Homo sapiens: one gene and its partners. The protein of the gene in region 1 purifies or fractionates together with the protein of each later gene. This does not show direct contact. Each region holds a gene or a part of one and is shown on either strand. Other genes may lie near its edges. The genes, in order: MAP7, MVP, GRHL1, BMP2K, LARP1B, PARP4 and TOP3A.

Region 1 (4,016 bases):
TATATTGGAAGAACTTTTCATCCTCAAGAAAAATAAATGTTTTCGCCACAAAGAATGTGATTTGACTAACTTTGAGAATATATACCCACAGAAATAGGGTTTTTAAATGTTGGGTTTATATAATAGCTTTCAATATGCTTAAGAACGGTCTCATTTCATAGGCCACACGCCACCACTGTCAATTCATCTTTGATACACATATACACACACACACACTCACACATATAATTCTGAACACATTACAGGTATCATTTTTATAATAACCTGATATTCTCATCTAAAGTGCCCTAAAATTAGACCAGTCTTTGTATAGAGACCCAAAAACTAAGAGTTATTTAAGAGTGGACTCTACCTCATAATAATGAGTTCTAAAAAGAAATAAAATTAATCCCTCAAGAAATGTTGCCATTTAAGGTGGCAATTTTCAACTCTTGATGGTAATAGTTTCTCTGTCCACGGCCACCCACCACCACCACCCCCCCCCACCCCCCCAACAATTCCATACAAACTTCTGATTGTTTAAAAAAATGAGACTTGCAGTATTTGGATGTGTATAATGTGAAATATGTTCACCAGAATGAAGTGCTAAATTAAAGTCTCATATTCAGATATAGGTCATGTGTTTTAAATATATGGAATAACTTAAGTTGTTGAAATTCAAACAATCTCACTTGTTCTCTCAAAATAACTACCACCTAGATTCAAAAAAATACATTTACACCTTCCTTCTTTCTTTGGCACCTGCTGACACAAATGCTTCTGAACACTAAAAACATTAATAGTAATCTTGGGGTAGAAAAATAGGAAAGAGATGCGGGGCCAGAATTAAGTTTTCAGTGAAATTATAAAGTATAATTATTCAAGACCATATATAAAAAATGTCCTTTGGAAAATGAAGTTTTTAGGCAAAAGTGTGGAAGAAATGTTTTCTATGAAGGAGATAACAGCCAATTTAACTCCCTTTTTAATAAAAGAAAATATTACACTGACAGGCACATGGTTGATTTGTATATTAATTGTTGGAAGCACGGCCTATTCCTTAACATGCTCAGGCACTGAATATCCTACAGTTTGTAGTCAGTTCACTTATGTCTGAACAAGTTGTTCACGTGCAGATTCTAGAAAGTTTATTTTTGAGCACAAACTAACACTTAGCTCGCTAGAACAATGTTGTTTCACATGCAGTTACTGGGTCAGGGTTAGGAACGAAAATCATGCCGTATATTTACAAATGAGGATGCTCCTCTCCCGGGGCCCTCACTTGGGGGAGCCCCGTCCCAGCGTCTAGCTCATCAAATTCCCGAAAGCAATTACAAAGGCATCTCTTCTCCACCCCAAAACAAAATAATGATCTACCAATCTTGCGAACACATTAAGACAAACTCCCTACAGGAAGGAGCATGACTTAAACAAGTTCAAGATACTTTGTCAGTCTTAACCTCAGGTATCTTGGCTGAAGGGATTAAATCATTAGACTTTACGTACCCAACCTCTTCCTAGCAATAGCAGATACATAATTTGCAAATACTGTTTCAGAGCTCTCTGGACCTTTCACGTTAAAATAAGCATACTTGATGGTGGGGAGACAGTGATTCTTACATTTAGGAAACAAATGCTTCCGATTGTGACCGTATGGAAGTGGAAAACAGCTTGCAATTGGAGAGTCTAAGAATTGAATTTCTTTTTAAAGTAAGAAACTGCCTCACTGCCCCCATCCCCAAGTGTAGGAAGATATAGAAACAGCTTACTGGCCAAGAATAGAAGAGGGAACCAGTGGAGAGGGACGGATTTGCAAGATAGCCTCTGGAGAAAAAAAAATCACGAGGGAGAAAAATCGGCTTCATACTATGGAGAGATGGGCGGGGTTGGGAAGCCTTGCTGCTGGTCTTGGGAAGCCTTGCTGCTGGTCTTGGGGACGTGATCCCCTGTCCCTAAGTGTGCCCCTGGAGGTTGTGGGGGAGGGGTATCCTCAACACAGAGGCCTGACCACCAAATCCCGGGCTGCAGAGCCAACAATCCTCCTTTGGGCTCCTGCACAGACTAAAAACAAAAAACTCTGAGAACTCCGACAAGTCAACGAAAGTCTGATCCCGTCAAGCCCGCACTCGCAAACCCCCACCGTGCTGCACTGGGCCCCGGCCCTCCCGAGCTCGGTCCCCTCGGACGACGGTCGTCGCCACTGCGGGCACCAGATTGGGGGGCGGGCCGCTCACCCCGCGGTCCTGCCCCACACCGACCCCGCTGAGGAGCCCCCGGCACCCGGGGCGACCAGGGAAGGCGGGAGGAGGTGCCCAGAAACTGCTCGTCCTGCCAGTCGCACCTGGCCGACGACTCTCTGGCCACTGGTTTGGTCTGGGGGATACGATTTCCCATTCAACTGAATTAGACCCGAGGCCGCGGCGGGGAGGGCAGCGGCCGGGGTCTCTCCGTTTCCTCCCCCGGCTCGCCTCCACCTGTTGCGGGAAAGTCGCGGTGGAGCGCCCGAGGGCGGCCGCAACCCCGGCCGGGGCCGAGCCGGGCTGGCCGAGCCGCGGCGGCGAAGGGCGGGGGAAGGCGCTCTCGGAGCAGGGTGCGCGGCGCGCAGGGCCGGTTGTTCCGGGCCGCGGCCGCGCGGGCGGGGAGGGGGCTGCCGGCGCCGGGTGATTTCGGTGCCAGCCCGCCGGCCCCGCTCGCCGTCCCCTGCCCGACGGGACCCCCACTATCCCCGCTGTGCGGTCACCTGTTTCGCTTCGCACTGCGCCGTCGCCGCCCCTGTGGCCGTCGCCGCCAGCTCCTAGCTCCGCCATGGTGCTCCGATGACGCGCCCGGAGAGCCGCTCCGCCCTTTCCTCGGCTTGGCTCCCGCCGGCCCCCGCCTCCCAGGCCAGCGGCCCAGACAGGTGAGCGCAGTCCGGGGATGGCGGAGGGCGGGGACAGAGAGCGCGGCAGTCGGCTGCGGCCTGGGCCTGGCGCGCCCCCTCGCGGGCAGGTGCGGCGTGGCAGCCGCTCCGACCGCCGCTGCCGAGTCTCGGCTGGAAGAGCGGCGGGCGGAACCAGTACCTCAGTCCGGAGCTTCCGGTCGCCGCGGCCGACCAGCTGAGGGCTCCCGGAGATATGGAGCGGGGTCAGCGAGGCCTGGTGGCGCCTCCTGGAGTCTGGGACGAGCGGCGGTCCGAGGAGCAGCCCAGGTGGGGCGAGGGTACGGAGACGCTATTTCCCTCCGAACTCTGAAGTAGCCAGGTCAGTGTCGGCTCCGCGAGGGCTGGAGTTCACGGTGACAGCCGGCAGAGCATCTGATGCCACGTGGAGAGGCGAAGTACATGGGTCGGATTCCACGCTGGGAGCCGGCCTGGATCTGCGCTTTAGGAAGCCACTGCGGGCGACCCTATCTTGTCGCCAGGACTTCGCATCTGATGAGCCTCAGGGCACACAAGTTAGAGAGGCTTGTGCCGGCTGATGTGGCTTTTCTTTTTCTTAGTTTCCGTTTAGTAAACGACCTTGTGACTTCTGGCTTGCTCAGGAAGACCAGAAAAAAAGGCAATAGGTAACGAATTTTTCTTTTTTTAAAGAAACAGATTATTGGCCGAGGAAAAACCAATTTCGCTCTAAAGGATAAGCAACAAAATACTGAGGGGGGAAAAAGCCTACACAAATGGAAACATACGGCACAAAATCAAGGAGCGACCAGTTCCGCATGGTTACACTAAAATGCACTGCACTCCCACTCTCTGGCTTGGCTGAAGATAACCAGCAAGCTCTGAACAGTTTAAAAGCCTTCCAAGGACTGCAGCAGCACTGGACACACAAGAGAGTCGAGAACAGTATTGGATTTATTGTTAGGGTTACAATTTTCACGATCTTTGCATGCAAAACTTGCCACTCTGAGCCCAGTGAACTATTTTTATTTGGTTTACTTACTGGCTTTCTGGATGACTAGGTAGAGCTTTAACTAAAGAACACTTCTGCTGTGGTCTGTGATGATGAATTTTCCCGTAGTGTCATTTCTATAATGGAATAGGCAAACTGACCATTTAGAAT
Region 2 (3,500 bases), on another chromosome or scaffold:
GCTTCGTTATAGGCCAGCACAGTGGCTCATACGTGTAATCCCAGCACTTTGGGAGGCCGAGGCAGGTGGATCACTTGAGGTCAGGAGTTCGAGACTAGCCTGGCCAACGTGGGGAAACCCTGTCTCTACTAAAAATACAAAAATTAGCCAGGTGTGGTGGCACACACCTGTAATTCCAGTTACTCGGGAGGCTGAGGCACGAGAATCACTTGAACCCTGGAGATCAAGCCTGTGGTGAGCCGAGATCGTGCCACTGCACTCTAGCCTGGGCGATAGAGTGAGACTCTCAGAAAAAAAAAAAATCTCCATTATAATCTTACGGGACCACCATGTGCAGTCTGTAATGGACTGAACTATCATGCAGTGACTATATTTCACATCTTTAATATCCTGGTGTTCACTTTGCTTTGTCATCTTTTGTAAAATAAACCTCTTGGTTTACCCTCTCCCACCCCCTACTTCATCCCCTCTCTGAACTATATGTGGGAATACCAGCAGTTGCCAAACTCATTCTGTAAAGGGGGCTGGATGGTAGATACTCCAGGCTCCGTGAGTCATTGTTTCTGTGGAAGTTCTTCAACTCTGCTGTTATGTCAGGAAAGCAGCTTGGGCACTACGTAAACAAGTGAGTACTGCCATGCTCCTGGAATAGTTTATCTGCAAAAACAGGAGGCAGAAAAAGTAGAAATAGGCCAGGCATGGTGGCTTACATGTGTAATCCCAGCACTTTACGAGTCCAAAGCGGGTGGATCGCTTGAGGTCAGGAGTTAGAAACCATCCTGGCCAACATGGCAAAACCCTTTCTCTACTAAAAATACAAAAAAATTAGCTGGGCATGGTGTCAGGCACCTGTAATCCCAGCTTCTCTGGAGGCTGAGGCAGGAGAATTGCTTGAACCCGGGAGGCGGAGGTTGCAGTGAGCCGAGATCACACCACTGCACTCCAGCCTGGGTGACAGAGCAAGACTGTCTCAAAAAAAAAAAAAAATTAGAAATAACCCAAATGTACATATATAATGAATGGATAAAAAATTGTAGCATATCCATACAATGGAATATCATTCAGCCATAAGAAAGAAATGGCAGGCCAGGCGCAACAGCTCATGACTATAATCCCAGTGCTTTGGGAGGCCGAGGCAGGAGGATTGCTTGAAGCCAGGAGTTTGAGACCAGCCTGGGTAACATAGTGAGACCCCATTTTTACAAAAACTTTTAAAAATTGACCAGGCATGGTGGCACACCTGTAGTCCCAGCTATTTGGGAGGCTAAAGTGGGAAAATCGCTTGACCCCAGGAAGTGGAGTGTATAGTGAGCTATGATTGTGCCACTGTACTCCAGCCTGAGGCAGTAGAGTGAGATCCTGTCTCTAGGAAAAACAAAAAATAATGACATACGTGCTACAACATGGATAAAATTGAAAATGTTATGCTAAGTGAAAGAAGCCAGCTGGACGCAGTGGCTCACGCCTGTAATCCTAACACTTTAGGAGGCTGAGGTGGGCACATCACCTGAGGTCAGGAGTTCAAGACCAGCCTGGCCAACATGGTGAAGCCCCGTCTCTGTTAAAATACAAAAATTAGCTAGCATGATGGCGGGTGCCTGTAATCCCAGCTACTGCTCGGGAGGCTGAGACAGGAGAATCTCTTGAACCTGGAAGACAGTAGTTGCAGTGAGCCGAGATCCCACCACTGCACTCCAGCCTGGGCTGCTGAGCCGAGACTCCATCTCAAAAAAAGAAAAAGAAAAAAGCCAGACATCAAAGACCACATATTGCATGATTCCATTTATGTGAAATGTCCAGAATAGGTAAACACATAAAGAAAATAGACTAGTGGTGGGTGGGGTAGGTGGGGAGTGGCAGTAACTTCTAGGTACAGGATTTCTTTTCAGGGTGATGACGAAAATACTCTAGACTTAACATAGCAGTGATGGTTGGACAACTTTGAGTATACTAAAACAACTGAATTGTGAATTGTATACTCTAGATGGGAAAATTTCATATGTGGATTATATCTCAAAATTTTTTTAAGAAACAGGCGGTGCTGGGCGTGGTGGCTCACATCTATAATCCCAGCACTTTGGAAAGCTGAGGTGGGTAGATCGCTTGAGTCTAGGACTTTGAGACCAGCTTAGGCAGCATGGCAACACCCCATCATCTACGAAGCACACAAAAATTAGCTGGGTGTGGTGATGCGCATCTGTAGTCCCAGCTCCTTGGGAGGCTGAGGTGGGAGGATTGCTTGAGCCTGGAAGGTTGAGGCTGCAGAGAGCTGAGATCATGCCACTGCACTATCCAGCCTGGGCAAGAGAGGAAGACTATCTCAAAAAAAAAAAAAAAAAAAAAAAAAGGCAGAATCCAGATTTGGCCTGAAAACCAGAGTTTGTCAAGCCCTAGGTTACACCATCTCTAGAAAACAAAGCCTGGGAGAAAGAAGAAAAAACAGGTTGATTTTTAATGGTTTAGCTTGCGTGGATCCAGGTCCTGACAGTTATGGAATCTTTCAAGGACACATTTGACCAGATGAGATTTGGCAGGCGTTTGTGTAGAGCCTCACAGTCCAGACAGTGCCTCACCGTATTATGATGTGGGGGTGGGGGCGGGCTTCTGGTGCTCTTGTCCTCCACACAGGCCTGAAACAGCACAGGACTGGGGAGGTACCATTGGAAGCACCCGCAACCCTAAAGGCACTGACCCTAACCTCACGTCTCCCCACTAGGGAGAGAAGTCTTTTTTCCTCCAGCCAGGAGAGCAGCTGGAACAAGGCATCCAGGATGTGTATGTGCTGTCGGAGCAGCAGGGGCTGCTGCTGAGGGCCCTGCAGCCCCTGGAGGAGGGGGAGGATGAGGAGAAGGTCTCACACCAGGCTGGGGACCACTGGCTCATCCGCGGACCCCTGGAGTATGTGCCATCTGCCAAAGTGGAGGTGGTGGAGGAGCGCCAGGCCATCCCTCTAGACGAGAACGAGGGCATCTATGTGCAGGATGTCAAGACCGGAAAGGTAATGGCTGGGAGTGAGCAGCAGTGCTGCCACGTGGCCTTGGCCTTGGTGGCGGCTTCCTCTGGGTGTGTGGAAGAGGTGGGCAGGGACTTCAGCAGCATGGAGAGCCATATCAGGTGGGCTGTCTGGTTGGGGGAGGGCACTACGTGGAGTGTTTGCCATCCTTCTGCCTTAAATGTCTCATTTGAAATGTTAGAACCAACCAGGTGCGGTAGCTCACATCTGTAATCTCAGCACTTTGGGAGGCCGAGGCGGGCGGATCACCTGAGGTCAGGAGTTCAAGACTAGCCTGGCCAACATGGGAAACCCTGTCTCTACTAAAAGTACAAACATTAGTCAGGCGTGGTGGTGGTCTGAGTAGTCCCAGATACTTGGGAGGCTGAGACAGGAGAATTGCTTGAACTGGGAAGCGGAGGTTGCAGTGAGCCGAGATCACACCACTGCACTTCAGCCAGGGTGACAGAGTGAGACTCTGTCAAAAAAAAATATTAGCATGTCCACT
Region 3 (4,204 bases), on another chromosome or scaffold:
TGTTATTCCCTCTTTCTACTGTGGCTGCCATGCCTTAAAAATTCCTACCTGAACACAGTGGGGAGGGGAGAAGCAGCAGAAAGAAAAAGGGATCCTTCACGCAATCCTCCAGGGTATATGAGAAAGCCAGAATATTCTACTGATTACCAGCAGATTGAGCATGGAATGTGGCCAAAGGGGACTGTAAATCAATAAAGAGGCATAATTTTCTGGCATGGGAGTTAACTGTTTATCTTAGAGATAAACACTTAAGGATATCCAACAATAAATGAAGCCACTGAACAAAAAGTTTTAAAAAAAATAGGTGGGAAAATCTGGCTTTTAAAAAATCTTTGCTAGTTTTCCACATTGCACAAGAACTGTTTCATTTTAACACTGTAGTTTGGTGGGAAAAATCCAAAAAAATCAATGGCGATCTTAGTGAAACCTTACAGAAGATTTAATTTAAAAGATTAAAGCAAACATTACTAATTCCAAAAACTTGAAATGTAAACAGTCTCAACAACTGTTCGGTTGGTACTATTTAATAAGTCAATAAAGAGAAAAAATGGAACACTGACTCTAGCAAAACAAAGCAGTTTATTTTCAAGGAGAAAAATAAATTTTAAATGTTTGGAACTCCTCTGAATTATTACAATTCTAACAAGCAAATTGAAGGACTGGCTCTCATTGCAACACACAAATGAAATATGTAAATGGCCTAAAGGTGACCTGCCTATTTTAAAAGTGAATGTAGAAAGACTGATTATCTTTTCAAGTAATCAACAAAGGTTAGCGTTTGGGAGTCACCCAGGGCCTTTAAGAACAGATACAGATTTAGAAAAAGGAGAACATCTTCAAAAAAGGGGAAAAAAATCCAACAATGTATCCTCAGTCAAAATGAAGTGTTATTTGAAAGCCAATGTTTTTACTCACGTTTTGGCATAAACGTTACATTTGGTAAGAAAGTCTTGAGGTGGTATACTATTTTAACACAAAACAAACATAAAAGACTGTTCAAAGCCAGCAGATCATTTGTCTAAAAATGGAGAAGATTGCTTACACAAATCTCAACTTTAAAGAAAATAAAGAAATATACAAAGTGGCATTCCCTGAGCCATCAGGACCAGAGTACAACAGCTACTGAACGGCTGGTGCCATGGACTGATTGACTGATGTACTGCTAAGCTATAATTAATAGCGTAATAGCTACTTCCAGAAGACTATGACAGCACTTGGCTGTTCAATTCCCTTAATGCTAGTTTTCAACTTCCCTTCTTCTCCCACCCACATCCCAAATTTGTACAAGCAATAGAAAACAGAGAAAGAAATGGCTTTATGTTTGGAATCACCCTGAAGGTGTTTCATATTTCCAAAGCCTGCCTAAGGCCAAAATGTTAGCTTTGGAAAATTTGCCTTATCTAAACTATACGTCAAGAAATAAACACAAAACCAGTTGCCTTTCTTAGTCCACTTCCTCATGACAGTCAGGAAGTAGGCTTCAGTCGCCGAAGGCTCATCATCACTTTCAGGTGAGCCTTAAACTCCGCGTCTGCGATCTCTCAGACTTCTGAAATATGTTTCAGGCAATAATTTAACTGCATATTCTACAACATAAGAGTAATCCATTTAAGATACTCCATACAAAATATCTATCTCATCCAGAAAAAGAACACACTGACAAAAACCGATCCTTCACAAATAACTAAGAAACTGGGAGGGGTACCTATCTGCCTTAAACTTCCTGATCTGAAATATACTGACTGGCCTGGTGCGATTTCCCTGTTTTTTCTTTAGTAAGTTTTTAAAATTTTTAGGACAATTTTATATTTTCAGAAAAGCTGCAAAGAAAATACAGAAAACTCCCTCGCCCAGTTAATCCCCCATGCCTTATTACACTACCACCTCACATTTGTCGAAATACGCTTTTAAATCACACACTCTAAAAAGCATATTAGCTTGTACAGTACTTTCTCGTTTAACACCCGGATTTCAAAGTTTCATCCTCTTGATTCTCTCGAGCACTAAAAACACGGTAATCTGTAATTACCATCAATGATGCAAGTGGCAAAATAACTCCTACAGCCGTTTTCCCACTCATGCCGCCAGCCAGGGAAAAGAAAACGCCCGGACATCGGGGCACTTCAACCTTTCCCTACATTTCTGTTTTGGAGGTTCCAGCAGGTCGCCGAGTGACGAGCCTGAGACCACAGATTACCTGGAGAAGTCCACCTGTCCCGACGCGGCGCGAGCCCCACCAGGCTCCCGAGGCCGACCGGGCAGGAGAGGGGGGCGGGGAGGCCCGGGGGCGTTGGCTGCGCCCCGACCTCGCGCCGCACCCGACCGCGCCGGGGGCCCGGACCCCAAGGTGCGCGCCCGAGGGGACCCAACCTGGCCGCGGAGGAGGGGAGGAGGGTGGCCCCTCCGGTGTCGAGTTTCCCCGAGGACAGGGTCTCTCCTCCCGAGGCTCCGACCGAACAAAGAGCACGGCAGGGCTAAGGGGCAAAGGCCGTGGCGGCGTGGAGTGGACAGCGGCCCCCGGCTCGCGCCCCGCGCCCGCCCGCCCGCGCGGCCTCGGGTCTGCGCCCGGCTCGCTCGCTGCAGGTGCGGCCCCTCAGCGCGGCCCCCCCGCGGCGGCCGGACTCCTGCGCCTCACTCACTTGTCGTACTCCTGTGTCATCGCGCCCGCTCGCCGCTGCCGGGCCGCAGAACTGGACTTTCGGGTTGGGACAGTACACCCGATCCGGGGGGAGGAGGCGGCGGCGGCGGCTGCGGGTCCGGAGCGGCGGCCCCGACGGGTTGGGTTTGCTTTTCTCGCTCTGAGCCGGCTCCGCGCGGGCTGCGCGCACTGGGCGCCGGGCTCGGCCGCTCATTGGCTGGCGATGCGCCGGCTGGGGGCGAGGCCTCGGGGCTGGGAGGCCGGTCGCGCCTCCTGATTGGTCGGCGAGAAGAGCGCCGGGGCGGGGCTGACGGGGACGAGCGGCGCGGGGCGGGGGGCGGGGGCCGCGCGTTCCGCGAGGTTGCGCCCGGGACTGCGCTCCCGGGGCTGCGCGCCCGACTCGCGGCCGTACGCGCCTGCCCTGACAGGAGAGGGAGCGCTGCGGCTGCGGCGCGCACCCGCCAACCTCCGCGCGCACCGAGAGCGCCCCCGCTCGCGCCCCGCCACCGCCCCCGCCGCCCCCGCCGTCCCCGCCGTCCCCGGCCATCCCCTTCGCGACGAGCCCCGGCCGTACAGCCGCCTCCTTCTTCGCTCACTCAGGCCTCCGCGCCCCGTGCCCACATTGCCCGCTGTTCCGGCCCCAGCGCCCCGCGCTGCCCCTGCGCTCGCCCGGCGGGGGCGCCTCTGCCGGTCGCCGCGCTCCCCGGTCGCGCGTCTCACCTCTCGGTTCTCGCAGGCTGTCACGCCCGAGTCCCGTGGCTTCCCCCGAGAGCCGTCTCCGGAATGTCCCTTCTCCTGGCCCACCGCGGCCGCGCGCTTTTAGGATTTCTTGCCCTCGCAGCTCCCGCGGTCCCCTCGGCGGCAGTCCCTGGGGCTCCGCGATGTCTGTGCCCCGCAGCCTCCCGGGCGCCACTTCCCCGCGCGGCCGCCCCACGCTGCCCGTGCAGTCGCGCGCCCCGGGCCGGCCCCGGGCACCACTCCACCGCGACGGCCCCCACTTGTCCTTCCCGAGCTGCCGTCTTTCCCAGGGTCCGCTCACTGAGTCCCCACATGCCCAGCGTCGGACCTGACCCTCGGACAGGCGCGGCCCCAGACGCCGGGGACAGGGCAGTCAACAGAACAGACACAACTCCTCGCCTTCCTAGTTGGGGTAACGGGCAATACAAAAACAAGTAAATGGTGTGGCTGGTTGGAAGGTAAAGCAGGCAGGCCCTGGGGAGGCGGGGAGGAGCGAGGCTTTCAGGCTTGAAGGAGATGAGGGGCCACGAAGGTGGGACTGTACCTGAGGCAGGGACCCTGGTGTGTTTTGTGACCCTTGAGGAGACCCGGGTGGCTGGTGGGGCACAGGGAGGCGGGAGCTGCGGTCAGAGATAGTGGGCGCAGGGGAGCGGATTGAGCAGGGCCTTGCCGGCTTCCGTAAGGACTGTGGCTTTCCCTCTGGGCTAGGTGGGGACGCCTTGGAGGGGCTTGGAGCAGGGTAGTGACAGGGTCTCACATTTTAAAATAGTTCTCTGCTGCTGCGTGGTGGGGACCAGGTAGGAGGCCATTGCCATGATGCAGGCCGAG
Region 4 (3,500 bases), on another chromosome or scaffold:
AGGAGAGAGCAGAGTATAGGTCAAAGGCCAGTTTAAAGGTCCAGATCAGGCAGGGTGCGGTGGCTCATGCCTGTAATCCAAGCACTTTGGGTGACCAGGGCAGGCGGATCACGAGGTCAGGAGATCAAGACCATCCTAGCCAACATGGTGAAACCTCATCTCTACTAAAAATATAAAAATTATCTAGGTGTGGTGGTGCGCGCCTGTAATCCCAGCTACTTGGGAGGCTGAGGCAGGAGAATGGCTTGAACTTGGGAGGCAGAGATTGCAGCGAGCTGAGATCATGCCACTGCACTCCAGCCTGGCAACAGAGCGAGACTCCATCTCACACACACACACACACACACACACAAAAAGTTCAGATCAGTATTTGCCGAACTCTTTGTCATTTATCTACTCTAGTTAAAATTTTTTGCTTTATTCACATAGTGCTTTTTTCTTTAATAAATTAGTAACATTATTGTGTATAATAAAATTAAAACATATTATACATTTTAAACAAATAAGATCCACTAAAATATAAAGTATGAAATGTAAATAGTAATCTAATAAATTTGCTAAGTCCCCTAGTGATAAGAATGGAATAATTTTCCTCATTAAAAATCAGATATTCTGCTTGATAATTGCTTAAAGATACTGATGAGGCTATTGTACTAATTAGATGATTGCTTTTTTCCACTTTTGATGCTAACTAGCATAAAAAATGTCAAATCTAGTTTATTTAGTTGGAAAATAGAAAAGATATTAACTGTCTTCTCTGACGTAGCATATATATTGTGTATACTTCATATTCTAAAAGTCTGTCAGCTCCTGGAAGCAAAGTTATGTCACTGTTGAGAATGGGATGATGAATTGGAAATCTGTCTAAACTTCTGATTAGTTAAAAAGAAAGTTGGATATCCAAGGATTTGAGGCATACACTGGCATGCAAGGTGCTGATGCCTGTAATGTATATTAATTACTATAGCACTGTCTGCTTTATTCTCATTTGTAGTGATGCTATTCGACAAATCACAGGTTTGATACATTAGACACTTTTCTTTTAATTTCTGTGTAACTATTAAAAAATAAGTTATCACAAAAATCATCTTGCATTCCCCAGGTTAGGAAATATTGGGTTGCATATCTGGGAAAGTGCATAAGACTTGTTTTACTCCACTCCTATGAAATTTATGTATTTAAGGATGTGTTAGAAAAAATTATACACTCAGCCACTAAAGGTTAGAAATGTGGAACTTCATGTGGGAACATTGCTCCAGCCACACTTGGTACGTCAATGCTACTTCATTAATATTATACCTATTTAACATCAGATTGTATGTTGAGTATAGTATCTTCTGTAACAATTTAAAAAGAGCTCTAAACTAATGTTCCTGCTTATGACAAAGTCAGTGGAAGAAGAGAATTGGGGTTAAATGTTTGTCTCTCAGTGGATAAGGGCTATTTGAGTAGAATATAAGAAACCAAGTAGTAGTTCCTTAGACAGAGGGAAAGAGTCACTATCTTTGTTGGAATAATTATTTCCTTTTCTTTTCTACTATCTTTTGCTAAACTTTCTACTCTTCCACCATGTTAATTTATCTTTAGTATGAATATCAGAGAGTATTACTGTGTTATATTCCAATAATAGTTAAAATAAACATCATCTATGCATACGTTATCTTCTTATGATATAATTGCCCTGTTATATTAGTTATCTGTTGATGCCTAATAAATTATCTCAAAACTTAATGGTTTAAAACAGCAGTTAACATTTATTATCTTACATACTTTCTTTGGATCAGAAATTTAGGGGTGGCTTAACAGGGTGGTTGTGTCTGGTAAGGCTGGGTCGGCTGTCCTCTGAAGGCTTGGCTGGTGATAAAGGATGTAATTTACAAGATAGTTCACTCACATGGCTTTGGGCAGGAGGCTTCAGTCCCCTGCCACATGGATTTCTTCAAAAGACTGCTTGAGTTTTCTCTTTGCCAAGGCAAAAATTATTTTGAACAAGGAATTATTGATTCTGGTTTCTCCCTCAATAAGTGATCCAAGAGACAGAGCAAGGAGGAATCTGAAATGTCTTTTTAGACCTAGTCTCAGCAGTCATGGGCTGCTGCTTGTGCCATATTTCATTTGTTAGAATTGAGTCACTAGATCTAGCTCATGTTCAAGGGCAGTGAAATTCGGTTTCACCCTTCGAAGGGAGGAATGTCAGATAACTTGTAGACATTTTTTAATACCTGTTTAAACTAGGTTAAGGTGATAACCCTATTGAGTTACAGTCTGCCAATAGGAATCCATAAATTTATTTTGGGAATAGGAAGAGGGTGATTCATATAGGGAATCCGAAAGTTCTAAAAGGAATGATTGACAGACAGGAGGGGGGATGCCCATCTCTCTTTGAGTTTTACCCACTGTGATCTGTTTTTTTTTTTCCTTCAATTTTCTGGGTAAAAACATCTGATCTGTGTTTTAAGGAGAGATGGGACTCTGTCACACAGAGGCAGGCTCAGACTGGCAGTTAATGCATCCAGAATGGACTTTAAACTGAATTGTTTTTTAAATTAAGATACCTAAGTTCTATTTACTAAGCAAGTCTATTTACTTGTAGGTAACTTACTATTTATTTTCCTCTGTTATATGCTAGCCTTCAGTAAGTATTTAAGTATCCTATTCTTGGCTCAGATATGCTGAAGGGGCTTGGACTAAGGGATTAAATAGACGACTTTTGCCTTTCTTTTCTCTTCTAAGACCTGTTTGGTGGCAATGGCAATGAGCTCTCAACGGTTAGGTAAATTTAGGGGATCAGTTAAGACTTGTGAAATTGAGATACTACTTTGAACATTAGGATTCTCCCTTCATTACTACTGTTAAGAGGATTTGCATATGAATTATGAAAGGAACTTAATAGCTTTCTTACATTGTCTCGTTCTTATGCTATACAGTCATGCATTGCATAACAATGGGGACATGTTCTAAGAAATTGCATCATTAGGCAATTTTATTGTTGTATGAACATCATAGAGTGCATTTACACAAACTTAGATGGTATAGCCTACTACACATCTAGGCTTTATTATATAGCTTATTGCTCTTACGCTACAAACCTGTATAGCATGTTACTATATTTAGTACTATAGACAATTGTAACAGAATGGTAAGTATTTTTGTATCTAAACATAGAAAAGGTAAAATAAAAATATTGTATAAAGGATTAAAAATGGTACATCTGTATAGGGCACTTACCATGAATGGAGCTTAGAGGACTGGAAGTTTTTCTGGGTGGGTCAATGAGTGAGTCGTGAGTGAACGTGAAGGCCTAGGACATTACTGTACACTATTATAGACTTGACTTTATAAACACTGCATTCTTAGAACACACTAAATTTATATAAAATTTTTTTCTTCTTCAATAATAAATTAACCTTAGTTTACTGTGACTTTTTTACTTTATAAACTTTGAAAATTTAAAAACATTTTGACTCTTTGGTTATAACACAAAACACAAACATGTACAA
Region 5 (3,500 bases), on another chromosome or scaffold:
CATTTAATAGGTTCTTAGTAGATATTTATTGAGGACATTAATGTGCTAAACAAACAACTCAAACTGTATAAATAATATGGAAACGAAGCATTGTTATTTTGCTTTTTTCCCCCTTTTTTGAAAATCATTAAGATTAGCTGATTATTAGCAGGAATTTTTTTTTATAAGAAAGAAGAAAATTAATTAAAAAAAGAAGAAGTCTAGAGCAAATCTCTTAGAGTGCCAGTGATCTGCAAAGCACTATGGTATGTTTTGTCCTTCAGAGGGGTTGCAGAGGTGATTTATTGCTCGTTGCTTTGTGATGCTTTTTTTAAAATAAAAATAGAGACAGAATCTTGCTCTGTTACCTAGGATGGTCTCAAACTTCTGGCCTCAAGCAGTCCTCCTACCTCAGCCTTGTAAAGTGCTGGGATTACAGGCATGAGCCACCTCACCCAGCCTGTGTTTCTTAAAAACCATTTTGTGTTTATACTAGATATTTTCAGAATAATTAACTGATAGTTTTTCCATTTGAAAACTTTGGGAAAATATGTTTTTGACTGGTTACTAGAAAAGAAGGATTAGTTAGTTTCATGAAAAGAAATGCTAGGGAGTTTATCATGCTCTCAAAACCTTGAAATCTGTCTTGTTAGTGATACACATTTGATTATTTTACATTGTTCTTACTAGCTATATTGTCTCTAAAAGATAAAAAGTGTGTATGTTCTTCTGCACACCTGTGGTATACTAATAGTTATTTTGGGGTTATAAGTGATTTTTCAGTTTTTTTCCCCAGAGTATTTCTTTTTATTGGAGCAGTATATGTAGAGATCAACAACAATGGAAAATGTTTAATTTACCTAATGAAGGACATCTTGTCTTTGTTGCTTCCAAGTTTTGGGAATTATGAATAAAGCTGCTATAAACATCTATGTAAAGGTTTTAGTGTGGACATATTTTTAAATCCCTTAGATAAATACTAAGGAGCATGATTGCTGGATTGTATAATAAGAATATATTTAGTTTTGTAAGAAACTGCCAAACTGTTTTCCAAAGTGGCCCTATCATTTTGCATTCTCACCAGTAATGTTTCTTTTTAACCTTGGTAATGTCTTGTTTTGAAGTCAGCCTTGTCTGATATTTATATAATTATGCCAACTTTCTTTAGATGAGTGTTTGCCAGTGTATCTTTTTCTACCTTTTTACTTTTAAGCAATCTCTTTGTTTTAAAGTGGGTTTAATGTAGGCAGCATATATTTGGGTCTTTCTTTGCTTTTTATAACCCAGTCTGATAATGTGTTGTTTAATTAGTATGTTTAGACCATCCACATTTAGTGTAGTTATTGATGTGGTTGGATTTAAATCTATCATTTATTTTTCTCATCCATTCTTTTTTTTTTTTTTTTCTTTTGAGACTGAGTCTCACTCTGTCTCCCATTCTGGAGTGCAATGGCATGATCTTGGCTCACTTCAACTTCCGGCTCCCAGGTTCAGGTGAGGACTCAACCTCCTGAGTAGCTGGGATTACAGGTGCCTGGCACCACACCCAGCTAATTTTTGTATTTTTAGTAGAGATGGGGTTTCACCAGGTTGGCCAGGCTGGTCTCCAACTGCTGACCTCAGGTGATCCACCTGTCTTGGCCTCCTCAGGTGCTGGGATTACAGGCATGAGCCACACTGCGCCCAGCTGTCTCATCTATTCTTCATTCTTTTTTCTCTTTTTCTGCTTTCTTTTGGATTGAGTTTTTATAATGATCCTATTTTATCTCTACTATTGACTTATTAGTTATGTCTCTTTTTTATTTTTTACTGATCCTCTAGGATTTACAGGTATACTTTGTTTTGTTGTGCTTCATAGATACTGTTTTTCACAAAGTGAAGGTTTGTGGCACCCCTGTGTTGAGCAAGTTTATCAATGCCCTTTATCTAACAGATGTACTCAATTCATGTCTCTGTGTCACCTTTTGGTAATTCTTGCAATATTTCAAACTTTATTATTATTATGATGTCCTTTTTTTTTTTTTTTTTTTTTTGAGACGAAGTCTCGCTCTGTCGCCCAGGCTGGAGTGCAGGGGTGTGATCTCAGCTCACTGCAAGCTCTGCCTCCTGGGTTCACGCCATTCTCCTGCCTCAGCCTCCTGAGTAGCTGGGACTACAGGTGCCCGCCACCACGCCTGGCTAACTTTTTTTTTTGTATTTTTTTAGTAGAGACGGGGTTTCACCGTGTTAGCCAGGATGGTCTCAATCTCCTGATCTCGTGATCTGCCCGCCTTGGCCTCCCAAAGTGCTGGGATTACAGGCATGAGCCACTGCACCCGGCCTTTTTTTTTTTTTTTTTTTTGAGACAGAGTCTCACTCTGTTGCACAGGCTGGAGTTCTGTGGCACAATCATGGCCCACTGCAACCGTAACCTCCCAGACTCAAGTGATCCTCCCACTTCAGCCTCCTGAGTAGCTGGAACTACAGTTGCATGCCACCATATCCAGCTAATTTTTGTATTTTTTATAGAGATGGGGTCTCTGCTGTCTGGGCTGGTCTTGAATTCCTGGACTCAAGCAGTTCTCCTATCTCGGCCTTCCAAAGTGCTGTGATTACAGACATGAACCACCATGCCCAGCTACTATTTTGTATTTTATGGTGATCTGTGATTAGTGATCTTTGATGTTAACTATTGTAATTGTTTTGGTACACCATGAACCATGCCAGGATAAGACAGTGAACTTAATAAATATTGTATGTTTTCTGGCTGCTCCACTGACTGGCCATTTCTCCATCTCTCCCCCTCTTCTTGGGCATCCCTGTACCCTGAGAGACAAAAATGTTGAAATTAGACCAACTAATAACCCTACAGTGGCCCCTAATTGTTCAAGTGAAATTAAGAGTCAAAATTCTTCAAAATTAGGAATGTCATCATTAATGAGGAAGGCACGTTGAAAGCCCCAAGACAGGCTGAAAACTAGATCTCTTGTGTCAAACAGCCAAAATATGAAGGCAAAGTTTTTGAGGGAAATTAAAAGTGCTACTCCAGTGAATACACAAATGATAAGAAAGTGAAACAGTTTTATTGATGATAGGGATAGAGTTTGAGTGGTCTGGATAAAAGATCAAACCACCCCCAATATTCCCTTAAGCCAAAGCATAATCCAGAGCAAGGCCCTGACTCTCTTCAATTCTCTGAAGACTGAAAGAGGCGAGGGAGGTGCAGAAGAAAAGTTGGAAGCTAGCAGAAGTTGGTTAATGAGGTTTAAGAAGCTGTCTCCATAATATAAAAGTGCAAGGTGAAGGAGCAAGTGCTGATGGGGAAGGTGCAGCAAGTTTTAAGGAAGATCTAGCTAAGATAATAAAAGTGGCTACATTTCTGCAGGTCTAGATCTGAAAAAAAAGTGTGGCTACCTTAAACAATAGATTTTCAGTGTAGACAAAACAGCCTTCTATTGGGAGAAGAAGCCATCTAGGACTTTCATAGTTAGGAAGGAGCAGTCAATGTTTGGCTTCAGAGCTTCAAGGGATGGGGCTGACTC
Region 6 (3,999 bases), on another chromosome or scaffold:
CAGTGGTTCAACTAATTTACATTCCCACTGACAGTGTATAAGCATTTCCTTTTCAATAAAGCCTTGCCAGCATCTGTTGTTCCTTGACTTTTTAATAATAACCATTCTGACTGGTGTAAGATGGTATCTCATTGCAGTTTTAATTTGCACTTTTCTGATAATTAGTTATGCTGGGCTTTTTTTCATGCTTGTTGACCATTTGCACATCTTCTATTGCATATTCTCTATTTATTGAGACTTTGTTCTCCTGGTTGTTTCTTTCAGTTATTTTTCTATGTTTCCTTTCACTTTTTGTCCATGTTTAAGACAGTTTATTTGAAGTATTTGTCTAATAATTCCTATGTCTGTGCTTCCTCAGCTCAGGGACAATTTCTGTTCATTTCTTTTTTCCTTTGAATTGGCCATTTTTTCGCCTTTTTTTTTGCATGCCTCATAATTTTTTGTTGAAGATTGGACATTTTGAGCATTACGATGTGGTAACTCTAGGAATCAGTCTCTCTCCTCCCCCAGAATCTCTTGTTGTTTCTTAGACAACCCTATAGAGTAGGTTGTAATGATGAAACTTGGTAAATTACCTTGTCCCCAGCCCCCTTGGTAATAAATTGTGGAGTCAGGATTCAACCCCATACCCTTTCCACTGTATTCTCTACTCTATCCTTTCTATTCTCATTTTATTCAGTATCCTAAAAATCTGAATCTTCCCCATTGCTTTATTCCCATTTCAGTGAATCTCAGATCTGTATCTCCAGCCCCCTGCCTCTCTTGAATGGCAGATAAATATATTTCCAACTAGTTACACTGTCACGAATTTCAAACGCAGGAAGGCTTAAAGTAAATTTATTATCTCACTCTCCTGTTTCCACGAACTTTCCCGAAATTTTCTTCTTTCCCGGCCTTGTGAATCCCTTCCATTTCTCAGTTAAAGGACAGCACCATCCACCCACCTCTCTCAAAGCCGAGCTTTGTATTAATCCTCATTGACAAAATCCCTCCTGAAATATGAAACTGAAAGCCCTGAACCCTCCGGCTGATCTTGGAAGAGAAACCCCGCCAGAGGCCGGGGACCCGCTCCCCACCTGGCGGACCCGATTCCGGGCGCGTTCCGGCTATCGTCCCTGCTTGGGACGCTGCGCCCGCCTGGTGCGGGGCGGGGTTCCGGCGCAGTGGCGCCCGCCCAGCCCCGGGGGCAGGGAGAGCCTAGATTACGGAAGTACCGCGAGCAAGGAGCGCGGAATCGGGGAGCGTCCGGAGCTAGCTGGATCCTCTAGGCAGGTGCGTGGGCGCTGCGGGGTGGGGGGCTGCAAAGGTCCCTGTAGTCCTAGCCAGGAAGTGGCCCGCGTACTACTTTCCCGCCAGTGGCTGCACCCTTGCCCTGCGCGGCGTTGGCGCTGTGGGCCTGACGGCGCTGCTAGGCTCGGGAGTGGACTAGCTAGTGCAGCCAGCGCCCTCGGGGAGGGATATTGCGGTCGTTCCGCTCTGCCCCGCGGCGCAGCCCTGGTGACGAGAAACCGGGTGCGGTGGGGGGCGCCCACCGGAGCCGACAGTCACACCAAGTCTCCGCACCCCGTGCGGTGCGGTTCGCAGTAGCACGCGTTGTTTCTTGTTTCCAGTATGCCAAACGGCCTTCTTTCCTAAAGTTAGGTTTCGAATTGTGCAAAAAGTAAGGTGGTTTGGTGAGTAATCAGGAAGTACTATCTGACCTCGTGAGTCATTGGGAACACCGTGATAGAAACAATGTGTTTGTTGAGGTCCAAAGTTGAAAACCTCTAACTCAGTTAAGTAATTCCTGCTAGGAGGGCCGAATGGTTCACCCAGGGATCGAGTTGGTAGATCACAGGTTCTAGAAAACTAAGGCGCTGCTAAATATTCAAGCCCAAGCACTTTCAATTCTGGACTGCTGGATGACAACAATTATATGACAATATCCAAGCATAGTGCTATGATAAAGGGGAAGTTCGCTCTGAGATGTGCGTGTTGCAGACTCATTACATCTGACTTTATCATTTATTAAGTAAACATTAGGTCTTGTTTGTGTGCGTAGAGCTACTGTATATCATGTAGGAGTGAAATAAAAGTAGTACCTTTGTTGTTTAAGGGTTTAATAAACCCATTAGGGAGGTGCATTACTGATGCCATTTGAGTCCAAAATGCAAATAGTGTCAGAAGGCTTTTCTGTAATCCTGGGCTTTAATGGATACGTGAGAGTTTTTAGTAAGCAAGCTTTTATTGAATGCCCACTGTATATCAAAAGTGATCTTAGCGTGTGCTGACTCACACACTTCGGAAGGCGGAGGCTGTAGAATCAAGACTGCCCAGAAAGGGACTCCTCAGGGTTTTCCGAGAGGAGGAAATGCCAGTGGTAAAGACGAAGACCTGTGAAGCAGGAAGCCACTTGATTCCACCTACACCAATGGTTTATGGAGCAGCCAAGAGTTTGTGAGGAGGCGCGCTGAGGGTTTCTTAGGAATCGGGGCTGTTCCCTGCTGTCTTTGGGTGGAAGACACTCTGTGAATGTTATTTGGGGAAGAAGCTGGGAAGGGGGACAGGCTGGAGTGACTGTGCAGATTTGCCTTAGAGAATAACCAGCCCCTAGCCCAGTGTCCGCCACATCTCATATGTACGTAATCAGCGCTGATGAAAACATGAACTAACTCTGTGTTTAGAGAACACTTTGAAACAAGGAAGAACTAGTGGCGCATGTCGGTTAGGCGCTGTTAACCCAGAAGAGGGCTGGCATTTTACAGAGACTAGAGATGAATCTGTGGAAAGAGAGAAGTCAAGACCTGACTTGAGATTTCACGAAACCCAAAGTGCGCCTTTCCATACCTCCCACGCAGCCGCAGGTGCTAAGAACAGACCGCAGATTTATGTTTAAAATGTTTTTACTCTGGGCCGGGCGTGGCAGCTCACACCTGTAACCCCAGCACTCTGGGAGGCTGAGGCAGGAGGATGGCTTGAGCCCAGGAGTTTGTGACCAGCCTTGGCAACATAGTAAGAACCCTGTCTCTACCAAAATTAGCTGGGCATGGTGGTGCAGGCCTGTGGTCCCAGCTACTAAGTAGGCCGGGTGAAAGGATTGCTGGGAGGGAGGTCGAGGTTGCAGTGAGCTGTGACAGTGACCACACCACTGCACTCCAGCTTGGGAGACAGAGCCAGACCCTGTCTCAAATAAAATAAAATGTTTATACTTTGATTTCACAACTATGTGTATGTACTTAATGCCACTGAACTGTACACACAGTTTTAAAAACTGTACCACAATTTTTAAAAGGCTAAAAAATGTTTATACTCCTTGATTCAGTAATTCCATTTCTGGCCATCAACTCTAGGGAAACTATGACAGAGATGTGGCAAAAAAATATATGTACAAGCATTTTAATTAAAGTGTATTTCTAATAGTGAACACTTTTTTTTTTTTTTTTTTGAGACGGAGTCTCGCTCTGTCGCCCAGGCTGGAGTGCAGTGGCGGGATCTCCGCTCACTGCAAGCTCCGCCTCCCGGGTTCACGCCATTCCCCTGCCTCAGCCTCCCAAGTAGCTGGGACTACAGGCACCCGCCACTACGCCCGGCTAATTTTTTGTATTTTTAGTAGAGACGGGGTTTCACCGTTTTAGCCGGGATGGCCTCGATCTCCTGACCTCGTGATCCGCCCGCCTCGGCCTCCCAAAATGCTGGGATTACAGGTGTGAGCCACCGCGCCCGGCCAATAGTGAACACTTTTAAGTAACCAAGTATCTGATGACTTGGGGAAGGATGAAATAAACGCAAAGCTTATGTAACCACTAAAAACACCTTCAAAGAATATTTAGTGACATGGGGAGGATATCACTAAAAGCTAAATAAGCTGTGAAAGTGAAAGTCCTATTTAAAAAGTAAAGAGCAACTGGCTATAACATTAAATATAGAATATTAATAATTTAGAAAATACAATGATACAAGAAATAATAACACCAAAAAAATTAAAATATCAACAGTGGGGGCTAGGTGTGGTGGCTCATG
Region 7 (3,500 bases), on another chromosome or scaffold:
ATGGGATTTACCACCTTTTTGGCCTACTGCTGCTCCATGACAACAGGGGCCAGGGCCACTTCTTCCCCTTGGCCATCTTTCCTTTTGGCATCTGGGGCGGCTAGAGGAGAGAGGCTGCTGAAATGTCTCATCTTCAAGGAATCCTTCCCTCACCACCTGTTCCCCCACACTAGGTCAGAGACCCTTACTGACATGCTGTCATAGCACTCTATTCTACTTGAAAGGCATCTACTAGTTACAGTTAAATAATGGGATGTGCGATCATTTATTTGATTTTTGTCACTGCCTCTCCTTGGACTCTAAACTCCAAAGGACAGTGATTATATTTTGTTAATTGCTATGTCCTAACGCCTAATATGGTGTCTGGAATGCAGGAAACTTTCAATAAATATTAATACTTGGGCTGAGCGCAGCGGCTCATGCCTGTAATCCCAGCAGTTGGGGAGGCTCAAGCGGGCAGACCACCTGAGGTCGTGAGTTCAAGACCAGCCTGGCCAACATGGCAAAACCCCATCTCTACTAAAAATACAAAAATTAGCCAGGTGTGGTGGCGGGGTCCTGTAATCCCAGCTACTCACGAGGCTGAGGCAGGAGAATCGCTTCAACCCGGGAAGTGGAGCTTGCAGTGAGCCTAGATTGCGCCATTACATTACAGCCTGGGCGACAGAGTGAGACTCCATCTCAAAAAAAAATTAGGCCAGGCATGGTGGCTCATACCTGTAATCCCAGCACTCTGGGAGGCTGAGGTGGGCGGATCATGAGGTCAAGAGATTGAGACCATCCTGGCTAACACGGTGAAACCCTGTCTCTACTAAAAATACAAAAAATTAGCCGGGCATGCTGGCAGACGCCTGTAGTCCCAGCTACTCGGGAGGCTGAGGCAGCAGAATGGCATGAACCCGGGAGGTGGAGCTTGCAGTGAGCCGAGATTGTGCCACTGCACTCCAGCCTGGGCAACAGAGTGAGACTCTGTCTCAAAAAAAAAAAAAAAAATTCATAGTTGTTGAATGCATGTTTGAGCTGAGCCTGAAAGTTTTACCAGGCAGTAGAAACTGTAAAGAACAACCTAGTGGCTTGAAACTGCTTGGCATATTCAGAAACAGTGAGAAGTTAGGGGTGTGGTGTGGTGGGAAGAGACACCGATGAGTTAAGCAAGAGCAGCAGTTGAGTGCAGATCATAAGAATCTTAGAGAGCCATGTAGGTTGAGTGGTAAAATGCACAGAAAATTGACCATTTTAATCATTTTGAAGTATATAGTTCAGTGGAATTTTGTCCACTAAATGTGCCACCATCATCATTATCTAGTTCCAGAAGGTTTTTTTTCACCCCAAGAGGAAGCCTCATATCCATTAAGCAGTCACTCCCCTTACCCTCTCCTCAGCCCCTCACAACCACGAATCTGCCTTCTTTCCCCATGGATTTGCCTGTTCTGGGCATTTCCTATAAGTGGACCCATATCTTACATGCTCTTTTGTGTCAGGTTTCTTTCACTTAACATAATCTTGAAGTCCATCCATGTTGTACCATGTATTAATATCAGTTCTTCATTCCTTTTTTTTGGTTTTTGAGAAGGAGTCTCTCTCACTGTCGCTCAGGCTGGAGTGCAGTGATGAGATCTCGGCTCATTGTAACCACCGCCTCCCAGGTTCAAGCGATTCTCCTGCCTCAGCCTCCCAAGTAGCTGGGATTACAGGCACCCACCACCACGCCCAGCTAATTTTTTGTATTTTTAGTAGAGACAGGGTTTCACTATGTTGGCCAGGCTGGTCTCAAACTCCTGACCTCATGATCCGCCCACCTCAGCCTCCCAAAGTGCTGGAATTACAGGCATGAGCCATTGCACCTGGCCTCTTCATTCCTTTTTATGGCTGAATAATATTCTATCATATGGATAGATCATATTTCATTTTACCATACATCAGTTGATGGACATTTGGGTTGTTTTCATCTTTTGACTATTGTGAATAGAACTTCTATAGACATTCGCTGGGCGTGGTGGCTCACACCTGTAATCCCAGCACTTTGGGAGGCCGAGGCAGGTGGATCACGAGGTCAGGAGATTGAGAACATTCTGGCTAACACGGTGAAACCCCATCTCTACTAAAAATACAAAAAAATTAGCCGGGCGTGGTGGCAGGTGCCTGTAGTCCCAGCTACTCGGGAGGCTGAGGCAGGAGAATGGTGTGAACCCGGGAGGTGGAGCTTGCAGTGAGCCGAGATCACGCCACTGGACTCCAGCCTGGGCGACAGAGCCAGACTCCATCTCAAAAAAAAAAAAAAAAAAGAACTTCTATAGACTTTCATGTACAAGTTTTTGTTTGAATGTGTTTTTTTGTTTGTTTTTTGTTTTTTGAGACAGTCTCGCTCTGTCACCCAGGCTAGAGTGCAGTGGCGCCATCTCCACTCACTGCAACGTCCACCTCCTGGGCTCAAGTGATTCTCCTGCCTCAGCCTCCCCAAGTAACTGGGATTACAGGCACACACCACCACACCTGGCCAATTGTTGTATTTTTAGTAGAGATGGGGTTTCACCATGTTGGCCAGGCTGGTCTCGGACTCCTGACCTAAAGTGATCCAACTGTCTCAGCCTCCCAAAGTGTATTTGAATGCGTTTTTAATTCTTTTGGGTAAATTTGTAGGAGTGGAATTGCTGTGACATGTGATAACTCTGTAACTTTTTGAGGAAACACCAACATTTTCCAGAGTGGCCAAAGCATTTTACATTTCCACTGACAATGTCCAATTTCTCCACATCCTCAACAACACTTGTTATTTTACTTGTTTTTTTTATTATTCTATTTAATTATTATCCTAATGGGTATGGAGTGGTACCTCATCATGGTTTTGATTTGTGTTTTCCTAATGATTAATAACATTGAGCATCTTTTCATATGCTTGTTGGCCATTTCTTATCTTCTTTGGAGCAATGTTGGTTATATTTTTGGTATCATAACCAAGAAATCATTGCCAAATTCAGGATCAGAAAGAATTATACAAAGGAATCCATTGTTTTAAACGTAATTTATATTTTTTACTTATTTTTGTTTTATAGAGAGAAGGACTTTCAAAATTCAACAAGATCTATGAATTTGATTATCATCTGTATGGCCAGGTAGGTGCTAAAATATTTCTAAAATATTTCAATCATAAGCAAGAGAAAGTAGTCAGCCTCGTCATATGTAGAATATGTCGCTGTCTTAAGAATAACAACTGTTAACAACCTAAAGGTTCCTGGATATGGGGTGATCACTTTATAATTTATGAGGAGTTCTCTTTTTAATAAAATATGGTCCCATCTCAGCTCTTCATTACAAAAAAAAAAAGCTAATATACAATAGTTTGAGGAAAATTTAACTGATGCAAGAGGCGTCAGTTATACACCATATCATTAGAATGGTGATTGTATTCCTGTGACTTTTGGCTTTGAAGAGCTTATATTTATGTTTATTTCTTCCCAATCAGGTTTTTAAAAATGTCTTTAATAGAAGCTCCTCCCTCT

Evidence for each region.
Region 2: the proteins of MAP7 (region 1) and MVP purify together in Homo sapiens (affinity purification with mass spectrometry; one large-scale study listed by BioGRID and IntAct). This does not show direct contact.
Region 3: the proteins of MAP7 (region 1) and GRHL1 purify together in Homo sapiens (co-immunoprecipitation; one large-scale study listed by IntAct). This does not show direct contact.
Region 4: the proteins of MAP7 (region 1) and BMP2K purify together in Homo sapiens (affinity purification with mass spectrometry; one large-scale study listed by BioGRID and IntAct). This does not show direct contact.
Region 5: the proteins of MAP7 (region 1) and LARP1B purify together in Homo sapiens (affinity purification with mass spectrometry; one large-scale study listed by BioGRID and IntAct). This does not show direct contact.
Region 6: the proteins of MAP7 (region 1) and PARP4 purify together in Homo sapiens (affinity purification with mass spectrometry; one large-scale study listed by BioGRID and IntAct). This does not show direct contact.
Region 7: the proteins of MAP7 (region 1) and TOP3A purify together in Homo sapiens (affinity purification with mass spectrometry; one large-scale study listed by BioGRID and IntAct). This does not show direct contact.

Annotation. Positions count from the first base shown.
Region 1 is NC_000006.12:136,547,623-136,551,638, forward strand, and holds the start of MAP7 (ensconsin), read right to left. Parts: upstream 2,801-4,016; 5' UTR 2,787-2,800; coding exon 2,720-2,786; intron 1-2,719. UniProt on the Homo sapiens protein: Microtubule-stabilizing protein that may play an important role during reorganization of microtubules during polarization and differentiation of epithelial cells. Associates with microtubules in a dynamic manner.
Region 2 is NC_000016.10:29,837,462-29,840,961, forward strand, and holds part of MVP (major vault protein), read left to right. Parts: intron 1-2,716; coding exon 2,717-2,998; intron 2,999-3,500. UniProt on the Homo sapiens protein: Required for normal vault structure. Vaults are multi-subunit structures that may act as scaffolds for proteins involved in signal transduction. Vaults may also play a role in nucleo-cytoplasmic transport.
Region 3 is NC_000002.12:9,950,289-9,954,492, reverse strand, and holds the start of GRHL1 (grainyhead-like protein 1 homolog), read right to left. Parts: upstream 2,801-4,204; 5' UTR 2,660-2,800; coding exon 2,640-2,659; intron 2,582-2,639; exon of another isoform or gene 2,198-2,581; intron 2,192-2,197; exon of another isoform or gene 2,030-2,191; intron 1-2,029. UniProt on the Homo sapiens protein: Transcription factor involved in epithelial development. Binds directly to the consensus DNA sequence 5'-AACCGGTT-3'.
Region 4 is NC_000004.12:78,873,850-78,877,349, forward strand, and holds part of BMP2K (BMP-2-inducible protein kinase), read left to right. Parts: intron 1-3,500. UniProt on the Homo sapiens protein: May be involved in osteoblast differentiation.
Region 5 is NC_000004.12:128,179,812-128,183,311, forward strand, and holds part of LARP1B (la-related protein 1B), read left to right. Parts: intron 1-3,500.
Region 6 is NC_000013.11:24,509,979-24,513,977, reverse strand, and holds the start of PARP4 (protein mono-ADP-ribosyltransferase PARP4), read left to right. Parts: upstream 1-1,199; 5' UTR 1,200-1,272; exon of another isoform or gene 1,273-1,455; intron 1,456-3,999. UniProt on the Homo sapiens protein: Mono-ADP-ribosyltransferase that mediates mono-ADP-ribosylation of target proteins.
Region 7 is NC_000017.11:18,308,495-18,311,994, reverse strand, and holds part of TOP3A (DNA topoisomerase 3-alpha), read left to right. Parts: intron 1-3,053; coding exon 3,054-3,113; intron 3,114-3,500. UniProt on the Homo sapiens protein: Releases the supercoiling and torsional tension of DNA introduced during the DNA replication and transcription by transiently cleaving and rejoining one strand of the DNA duplex.